2 separate regions of the Homo sapiens genome follow, and region 2 is linked to region 1. The links come from fine-mapping of genetic effects on gene expression. Tissue or cell type: tibial artery. Region 1 holds a variant in brackets; the other region holds the start of a gene. All regions are shown on one strand. Distances are between the middles of the regions.

Region 1 (5,203 bases):
CAAATTTATAATGATCGTAACAGGTGCTATGGGATCCAGCCAGGCCTCAGACACACTCCTGATTCTCAGAAAGACTGTGGCCTGGGGGGGTTGGCAGTTAGGAAAGTTGTCACTCACAGCAGGGGTCCCCAGCCCCTGGGTCACAGAGCAGTACTGGTCCATGGCCTGTTAGGAGCTGAGCCACACAGCAGGAGGTGACCACTTCCTGTCAGATCAGCAGTGGCATCAAATGCTCATAGGAGCACAGACCCCATCGTGAACCGTATGCGAGGGATCTAGGTTGCACGCTCCTTATGATAATCTAATTAGTGCCCAGTGATCTGAGATGGAACAGTTTCGTCTCGAAACCATCCCTGCCCCACTGTGATCCATGGAAAAATTGTCTTCCACGAAACTGGTTCCTGGTACCAAAAAGGTTGGGGACTGCTGACTTACAGGACAGCATGGTAAGGACTATTACAGCTGTCCCTGGTGCCGTGTATGGGGGAAAGGGGTGAAAAGACACATTCCAGTTTGAGGAGGTGGGAACATTTAAGGGAAGTATCTTAGAAAACGCAGTACCTAATTTAAGACCTGCAGTATAAGCCGTGGAATGAGCTGGGCATGGCGGGAAGGAAGGAGAGTTCAGGTGGAGGCTCAGCACGTGGGCTAGCCAGCAGGCATGAAAGACCTTGGGGTCAGGAACGAGAGCCACTGCAGAACTAGAGCAGCCTCCCCAGGGCTGGGCAGTGCTGGGATTGTGCCAGCAAGGCTGCGAGCACAGCCGAAGCCTGACCAGCCAGGTTTACTTCCTAGGCCAGCCCTTGGAGCTAAGCAGGCTGAGAGGGGCAGCACCTTACCATGTTCTCAGAGGTCTGACTCCTGAGCTTGTAACCTTGTAAGTGGTGCGGCTGCAATTCTGCAGATGGTGGGGGAGTGGAGGACTTGCTGAAGGGTGCTGAGCCAGCGGGACGCATGATGGATGTGCAGGCAGAAGGCTCACGCAGGTGCCCAAGTGGGGTGGGACTGCATGTTGGGGCCAGTCAGGAGGCTGCTGCTAGGACTATGCCGGTGAGAAAAAACAGCAGCCTGCCACGGGTCATGGTGGTGGAGATGAAGAGGGGCCCAGCAGGCAAATGGACTTGATGGAGGGTGGGGAAGGACATGCAACTATTCTTGGTGACTGATTGCATATTGGGGAGTGAGGGCCCAGTGCCCCGCCTGCTCTCTGGGACCTTGGTAACAGTGCGGTGGCTCTTTTGTCCCAGCATCTTCCTGTACTGTGTGGTGTGTATGCCTCTGCAAAAAGGTTTAAGGAAGATGCTACAGAAGGGGCTGGGTGGGTCCCAGATCAGGGGCCTCCAAGCGGGGCTGTGCTTGGGTGTAACCTGGCTCTGCGGTTAGGTACCATGTTTGTCCATCATCCAGGACACATTCCCAGGGACCAGACTCATGAAAATGAAGATTGAATTCAAATTTCCGATTTCCTATTTTACTGTGAAGGATAAAATATTGGCTCTCCAAAGACTAATGTCATCTCCTGGTCAGGCTAGCTCTGTTTCTGTCATTAGCAAGATTTGGGGAGATTACCTTAGTCCTGGGGCATTGTGCAGTGAGCGTGAGTGGTCAGGACCTGAAGCTGGGTAGCCAAGGCTCTGTCCATACCTGCCGTGTCTCCGGGCTGGGGTGCTGCTGGTGCAGCAGATGAGGCACATGTGAGAGCAGGGCTGCTGCTCCTGAGAGGCTGCCTTTCCTGGGCCCCAGGCAGACCCCTGCTGCACACCTGTTCTCTCTGCCCATGGTGATTATTATTTTGTGTGTCTGACAGAGTCTCACTCTGTTGCCCAGGCCAGAGTGCAGTGGTGCAGTCTCGGTTCACTGCGACCTCTGTCTCCCGGGTTCAAGTGACTCTCCTGCCTCAGCTTCCCAAGTAACTAGGACTACAGGCGTGTGCTACCACGCCTGGCTAATTTTTATATTTTTAATAGAGACGGGGTTTCGCCATGTTGGCGAGGCTGGTCTCGAACGCCTAACCGCAAATGATCCACCCACCTCAGCCTCCCAGAATGCTGGGATTACAGGTGTGAGCGACTGTGCCTGGCCTGCACAAGGTGATTCTTTTCTCAGATCACCTTCCTTAAACTTGAGTGTTTCCAGATCTCCTCAGCACCATTTGTGCTTTTCCCTGGATTCCTGCTAGTGGCTGTTTTTGTTTATTGGGTGCCAGCTCTTTCTAGTTTCAGTCTCAGCAGAGAATTCTGTTTCCAACTTCTGGAGCTGCCTTATGTTATTTGGACACAAGACAGCCGTAAATTCTGCTGACCAGGGTGTGCATGTGTGGGCAATGTGTATTTTATCATTTTAGTTTTATTTCAGAGAACACCTTAGCTTCCAGGAGAGTTACATGTGCAACATCTCGGAGAGTGCTGAGCTCAGGTTCCTGGCCATTCAGGTAGCTCAAGCAGCAGGCACCTGAAAGCACTCCGAGGAATGGCCAAGCCCTCATCGCACAGCCAGAGCTGGTCACAGTGCTGCTCTGCACACCAGCCTCTAGTCATAAAAATAAGGAACACACTAAGAATCACACCCCTGTGATCCCACATCAGATGTCTCCTCCCATCCTGAGTTATTAATAATTTTATTAAGAATATGCTTTCAACACGCTTGTATTTATATATGTACTTAACAAGAAATCACCAAGACTGCAGCGGGCAGTTCCTCTTCCCTTTCCTTTTCATTGCCCAGAGAAAGGGAGAAAAAAAAACAACACTGCATTTGACTTGTCACTTGGAGGCTTAATTCCCTTCTTACATGCAGCAGTGGGGTCTCCTTCCGCCCTCAGGCACAGCTTGCTTTGAGACTTGCAGTATCACAATTAGTGTTCTCTTGCAGCTTGGACTTAACCAGCTTAAATTACCATCTGACTGAAGGGTGCGAGTGCTGGGTCTGCATGTGTTTCTTTCCATCAGGGGAAAGATTTGCCAGTGCATGTTTGAACATCTGCAAGTTTGGGTTTATTTTGGCTCCAAATCTGTATGCAAACTGTTGGTCATAAAGAGTTAGAAGTTCACAGCGAACCTTCCTGAAGCTTCTAGTTCAGTTTT[T/C]AGAGCTTGATGTTGGAAGAGATCTATTTCAGCAGGTGCCTGAAAGTATAGGGAGTTCAATATTCTAATTGCGTGTAGTGGCAGCTATTGGTTTAGAGGTAGGTTTAGCAGAAAAGACATTTTGGATGGGGTCATTTCTGTGCATGTCCTGTGTACACAGGCCTGATTTTAAAAGCTATATAGGCCGGGTGGGGTGGCTCACGCCTGTCATCCCAGCAATTTGGGAGGCCGAGGTAGGTGGATCACTTGAGGTCAGGAGTTCAAGACCAGCCTGGCCATCATGGTGAAACCCTGTCTCTACTAAAAATACAAAAAATTAGCTGGGCGTGGTGGCAGGTGCCTGTAATCCCAGCTACTTGGGAAGCTGAGGCAGGAGAATCGCTTAAACCCAGGAAGTGGAGGTTGCAGTGAGCAGAGATCACACCATTGCACTCCAGCCTCCGCAATAAGAGTGAAACTCCGTCTGGAAAACAAACAAACAAAAACCTAGATGATGGGGGTGAGGTTAGGGGGATGCTTTTTGGGTTAATAATTCCTTCAAGGAATAATGTTTGGAGGACAGGGCTTGGAAAAGTGCTAATCCCAGCAAGAGCCGCCTTCCCAGCTTGGCCCGAGGAGCCACATCACCACGCAGCAGCCCCCACGATGCACAGTAGTGGTAGGAAGCTTGGCCCCTCTCTCCCCGCAGAGGCACGTCGTCCATTGTTCTGCCCTGGGCCTCGGGCACCCACCCCCAGAAGCGGCCCCATCAGCACAGACAGGAAGTGCACCTTGCTGGTGAGCAGGTCTGCTGCTTGTCAGTCAGCGCTGGGTTTCCCCAGACACTGATGGGCAGCCTTTTTGGAAAATAAGAATCAGAAGACTCCAACACGTGCACCCAAGAAATGTCACCTTCTGCTTTACAAAGGGTGTACCCTTCATGGCAACAGGCCCAGCCGCACAGAGCTTCCTCAGAGCCAGTGTCCTGGGAGAGGCCTGTCATGTGCCAGGGTCAGCTGCTGGGATTCTCCTGGGTTTTGTGTTAAGCTGGGCCAATGTGGTGACACGGGGAACGCCAGGAAGGTGTGAGAGGAGAGGAACCGACTCTTGGCTGTTACAGCGGCTGTTTGCAGGTTCAGGTGTGGCCGAGAGGGGTGCAGAAGGGTGGGCTGCCATCATTTCATGCCTGGAAAGTCACTTCCACAGCAAGAGGCCCGCTCCATGCCTTGCCAGGCCCTCCCGTCACCGTGACCCTCCGGCTCCCAGGACCACCAGGAGCACAGGTTGGGGCAGAGGTGGTATCAGCAGATGAGAGTCTTGAAGTGGCTGGGGCCAGGCGGGCCTGGCTGAGGTTCAGTTGGGTCCTGATTCTCTGGAATACCTTGGGGAAGTCCCCGAGGAGGCAACACACTCATGTGGGGAACTTTTCCCCTCCACTGCCATGAAAAAAACTCCCTAGAAGGGATGAGGGGTGCAGACAGCACCCTGGCTGGTGGCATTTGATGTGTCTGGGAAGGCCCCTTCTATCCCCAAAGACCTCCCATTAGATGGCAGGGTGGTCAACCTGAGCACGGCCAACAGCCATTGGGCGCTGATGCATGGCGAGAACTGGCAGAGGACCTTTTCTTTTGAAATCACGTCCTCACCACCATCTTGTGAGATAGGTTTTACTATGATCCTCGCTTTCAGATGAAGACACTGAACTCTAGTCTGACAGCCAGGAGGCAGCCAGGTCAGGACTGGAATGCAAGCAGCCTGACCCCAGTCACAGGCAAGGTGCGCCTACAGTCACCCCAGTGCCTTTGAGGGGGAATCACGAGAGGAGGGTGAAACCCACGCAGTGCCAGCAATCACGTGCCACTGTGTTGAAGTTCTTCCCTGAGGATGGGCGTGCATTCGATTAGAGGCCTTGTAGAGTGTGGGAAGGTAGGGAGTGGCAGAGATTCACTTCTTGCTTCTTGCAACCAAAGGGTTGCAGCAGGACAACCACGCACGCCTCTGCCCGGACCTTTCTGCCTTAGCCTGCAGTAACTGGCTGGGCACTGGGTGTCCTGGGCCCTGGGTTGCCCCCCGCAGGAATATAGAGTTGCCTGTGTGTGCAGTGGTGGGTGCTTTCTGTTCTCGATGCTCCATCTCTGTGA
Region 2 (5,128 bases), 63 kb before region 1:
AATCTTACTCTTCTGACTTCTGGTGTTAATAGTCTCCTCTTTTCCTATTTAACCCAAAAGAAAAATTTGAGATTTTGATAGGAACTCTGGGCATGTGGACCTTTTAGGCCATACTGAATGCTGATTTTGACGGTAAGGAGGAAGCCATGGCAGGTTCTGAGTTTAGGGGGAAAAGCAGATGGTCCAAGCTGGAGAAATATATCTACAAGAAGAGTATGAATAAGAGAGAAATATTGCAAGTGGATGACAGAAGAAAAAAATCAGTATGAATTTGTCATTCATGGTCAAGTACCAGTTTATGAACTGGTTGTGTTCTTAAACGTTCATCTGACTGTTGGATGAATGGCCCAAGGAGGGCAGAAGGCTGCAGAAGTAATTCATTGGTTGCTGGATAGAAGCTTCAAAAATTCACAGTTTAATGCTCTTGTTTTAAAGAGAAAAAAAAAGCTAGCTCAGAAAAGTTGATCATCTTGCTCAAGACCTCCTTAAGAATTAGAAATAGAGGCTGATTACTGGGATTCCCCAGGCAGTCCACTAACGATTCTGTGTTGTCTCTAAGCAGGAAGGTGGTAAAAACAGTTACTTAATGGCAGTGTGTGGCAGAGGGGAAAGGGCAGGCTGTCCAGGTGACTGAGAAGCAGGCGGGAGAAGAGGAAGTGAAGGCAGTGAAGAAGGAACACTCTCCCAAAACAAGAGGCAGAAAGGGCACTCCGGGTCTGGGTCCCATTCTACCTAGAGAAAACATGCAAGCGCATATTGATTGAGGGCTTTCTACACGGGGGGTTTTGATACCATTTGTTGCCCAGAAGATATGGGGTACAAGTACAGAAATGGCGACAGATGGAGTCTACAAGCTCTTTCCAAACGTTCACATTCCTCAGAACCTCACCCGTTTTCTCGGCCACAAGAAATTATTAATTTATTTGACAAATATTTTAAAAATCACTATTTTGTGCTAGATTTTGTCCCAGGCCACATGGCTGTATTACTGAATAAGACAACTTTTTTTTTTTTTTTAATCTGAAAGTTGCTGGCTAGTGAGACAGATAAAAAGAAAGCAAATACATGTATTTCCGATCAATAATACGGAGTAATATGATAGTGACTGGAGGACCAACCTGGAATTGGGTGGTTAGGAAAAGCCTCTTAGGAGAGATGGCATTTGGGCTGATACCTCAGCGATAACAGGCAGGTATGCAGAGAGCTGGGGATCCAGGTGTCTGGATAGAGAGCACAGCCCAGCAAGCCTGACAGGCTCAAGGAACAGACAGGAGACCAGCATGTGTGTAACTCGCTTAGCAAGAAGATAAAATGAAGTCAGCAGGGGTGAGCCAGGGCACGTCAGATTGACGCATGTACTCATTCAGCAAATATTTATTAAGCACCTACTATGTTCAGGACATTGTTGAGGATACATAAATTAAGAAGAAAAACCACTGGCTCAAGGATTCTGTCGCTGGAGAGAAACTTCAGAGTTTAATAACGTTGATAGAACACCCAAAACAATTCTGCTACAGTTTAGAAATTGATCCATTCCAGACAGAACCACAATGCAGACATTAAGGGACACACATCATCTAAGGCCGTGAGGTCTGAGGTCAGAGATCCAGCCATCTGCTCCCCCAGGGTAGGGAGGTCGGGCCTCCCCGGGGTGAGTCACGTAGCCCACCTCTCCCCACCAGGCGAGGCTTCTCGGTCTTGGTGCATGGGGCAGGGCCGCAGGAAATCCCCCAGCCTAAATCTGCCGCACTCAGAAAACCCAGGCAGGGGAGCCCCCAGAGACCAGGCCTCTGATTAGCACCTGATTCACGGAGGCAGCCAAGGCTGGGTAGCGACTGCTGGTAACTGGCCCCCGGAGTCGCCCCAGGGGAAAAGGCCAAAGGGGGATCTGGAGACCCCCGGCCGGGGAGCGGGCTCCGAGACGAGCGCAGCCGCCCGGTCAGGGCAGCGCCTGCGCGTCCGCCAGGCCCCGCCGCGCAGCCTCGGGTGTCCCGGCGGGGCGGCTCGGGCCGCGCACGCGCTCTGGCCTCCGGGGCCGGCCGCCTGGGAGCCCGAGCCTAGTGCCTCCCACGCCCGGCGGCCGCGAGCCGGGGTCCGCGAGGGCGGAGTGGGGCGCGGCAGCCAGGAACCCGACTACGAATCCCAGGGTGCGGGCGGGCGGAGCGAGGAGGGACGCTGGGCCTGCCCGGTGCGCACGGGGGCGGGGACCGGCAAGGCGGGACCATTTCCCGGCATAGGCTCCGGTGCCCCTGCCCGGCTCCCGCCGGGAAGTTCTAGGCCGCCGCACAGAAAGCCCTGCCCTCCACGCCGGGTCTCTGGAGCGCCCTGGGTTGCCCGGCCGGTCCCTGCCGCTGACTTGTTGACACTGCGAGCACTCAGTCCCTCCCGCGCGCCTCCTCCCCGCCCGCCCCGCCGCTCCTCCTCCCTGTAACATGCCATAGTGCGCCTGCGACCACACGGCCGGGGCGCTAGCGTTCGCCTTCAGCCACCATGGGGAATGGGATGAACAAGGTAACGTCTTCCCTCGTTCGCGCTGGGTTTGCCTCCGCTCCGACGCCCTGCCGTCTCGCCGGCGTCGGCTGCCCGACGACTCGAGCCCGGGGTGCCCTTTCCCGCGGTGGGGACGGGCGCGGAGGGAGGGGCGGCGCGCCTGGGCGGCGACCGCGGAGTCGGGGTTCGGAGGTGTTCCCGCCCCCACCCCACCCGGCTTCCGGGTAGGCAGCCCCCAGCCGCCTGCCTTGCCAGCCGGTGCGTTTTCGTGGCTGAAACAAGCCGCGCCCTTTGAAAGCGTTGACACTTGTTCTGCCGAGAGGTCAGCTGAGCTCCGAATGGATGTGGCTTCTTTTTTGCCCTCCTCTTCGCTCCCAAACTACGCTCTTGAAGCCACCACCGCCCCCCCCACATCATTAGTAAACGGGTGTCCTCTGTAATTTCCTCTTTCTCCTCAGATTCTGTGTGTGTGCCTGTGAGCACAGAGAAGTTTTTCTTGTGGACAGAGAAGTTAACAGAGTCCTAAGTCCTGAGCTGTTTCTAGATAGTGGGGAGGAGAGAAAAGATTCAGAGTTGATTAGGTTATGTGACTTCTGCAACAAGGGCAACCTGTTGCTGGCTGCTTGCGCTGATGAGGCCTTCTGGAAAATCTGTGTTGCTCCATTTGTCCCGTCCGTTTCTGGGCCCCACCCTGTGTTCTTTTGTTGCCCGCACCTCACTTCCCGGGCGGTGGGCTAGCCTTTCCCGTCCAGGGAAGTTGCCAGATTCCAGCTCTGGCAGCTGAGAGTTGCCGGGGTGTATTCATGTGAACCACAGGGTTAAGGATTTTGTTACTTGGTACTTGGCTGGTTTCGAGGAAGGATTGACAAGACTTTACAAAGCCCGCAACAAAGACAAGTACCTTTTTACGGGTCTTTGAATGGTCCTGGATTAGATGAGTCGTCTTTCTGCTTCACTTTTTCATTGCGCTCCACCCACCCACATCTCTACATGCCGTCAGCTTCCACACTGGGTGGGGATGGCAATGTGGCTGTGTTTTTTTTCATGTCCCTCAGCACTGGGTCAGCAGTGGTTTGGGTGTTGGGGCTGGAGTGTTGCAAATGCGGATTCACGGTAGGGCAGGGAAAACCTAGCTAACTTTTCACGTGCGCATGTCGTGTTTATTGTGTCCTGGTTACCCAGTTTGTGAAAGAACTATTGTGTGTTTGGGACCTGCATATCAATACTGGGGTATTTTGGTAAAGAGAATTGTATTCACTTTTTTTTTTTTTTTTTTTTTGGCGAGTGATCAAGTTTGGAAACAGACTGTCTCTCTCTTGGATAAATACTTGTATTATATTCCGATGAGCACTGGAATCCATCAGCACCACGAGCCTTCTGCTTTTTAAATTAAAACAGAACAATAAAGATGGTCATCATAAGTCTGTGGGCTCCGTTTGCCTTCCCATTGGTGGTGGTATCTCAGCTTTCCTTTGGCTGTTTCTAGTTTTCCCACTTGAGCTGTTCACTCTCCACCGTTTTCAGCATTTAATTTATAGTATTTGTGTAATACAATTCAAAAAATATATTTAGGAATACAGATGGTTGCCTAAGGGATCAACGTTATTTTCATGCTTTTCAACAAAAGCAGTAATATTCATATACTTTTTACCTTTCAAAATGGGTAATAAATTTCTTGACTTTTATTATCTTGTGAATAGAGACTCACAGTGTATCAATGAAGAAATACATGTATAGAGAGATTTAGAGACTTCCCTGCTTCAACACTTATTGATTATGTACATACTATGAGCCAGGTGTTGTGCTAGTGGGTGGGGAGGGGGCAAAGGGAGTACAGTGGTAAATGACCCAAAGATTCTTCACAGAACCTTCAGTACAGGTCAGCATTGTCCAGCACTAATATGATGCGAGCTATATATGTAACTTAAAATGTTCCGGTAGCCACATTAAAAAATAAACCGGTGAAATTAATTTTAATAATATATTTTATTTAACAATATATTAAAACTATTGTTTCAACATGTAACCAATATATAAAGTTATTCATGGAAGATTCCATGTTTTTTACTATGTCTTTGTGAAAGGAAAAATCTCGGGACCCCCAGATCACTTAACCTTCAAAGTCTAGTGTGTATTTTATGCCTAAATCACATCTCATTTTGGACTAGCCACATTTGGAGTACTCGATAGTCACTGTGGCTAATGGCTGCTGTGTTGCACAACACAGGGTGTGTATGTGTGTGGGGGTGAGAGAGAGAACAAACACAAGGTAGGGAGGAGTAGAGGCTCCAGAGGATAAAATAGGCAATTTCAGAAAAGTGGGGAAAGCAGAAGATGGGATGAAAGTGACCTAGAAGGGGCATTCAGCCCAGGCAAGGAATCCTGCTGCAGTAAACATGTTTAACGTGAGATCAGGAGGAACTACCCCAAATCACAAGGTTCATTAGTGGCAAAGTAGATCGCAGGAGGCCAGTAACTTAAGAACCTTAACTAGAACTTTTCCATATATTACTGTGTGACTTGGAACGAGGCTTCATCTGTAAAAAAAGAAGAATGGTTGATTTGCAGAATCAGCGGAAGGTGCTACCCCTAGAAATCCTTTTCTAAGAACATTTATAAATATGTGCAATGTCTTTGG

The links. PIP is the estimated chance that this variant, and not a neighbour inherited with it, causes the effect.
Region 2: it holds the start of DUSP22, and the variant in region 1 is fine-mapped to the expression of DUSP22 in tibial artery (GTEx, PIP 0.91).

The regions. Positions count from the first base shown.
Region 1 is chr6:353,104-358,306 of GRCh38, forward strand. No RefSeq gene overlaps it. Among named protein-coding and RNA genes, the nearest start is that of IRF4, 36 kb to the right of the region's middle. RefSeq lists enhancers at 875-924, 3,002-3,231. The variant T/C (reference allele first, on the strand shown) is at 3,084.
Region 2 is chr6:290,050-295,177 of GRCh38, forward strand. It overlaps DUSP22 (dual specificity phosphatase 22), which reads left to right and starts at 2,438. Exons shown (of 7, transcript NM_001286555.3): 1 at 2,438-2,511. The coding sequence starts at 2,491. RefSeq lists enhancers at 1,401-1,690, 1,617-2,117, 2,118-2,618, 2,911-3,170 and silencers at 1,801-2,820, 3,565-3,721, 3,601-3,660, 3,671-3,730.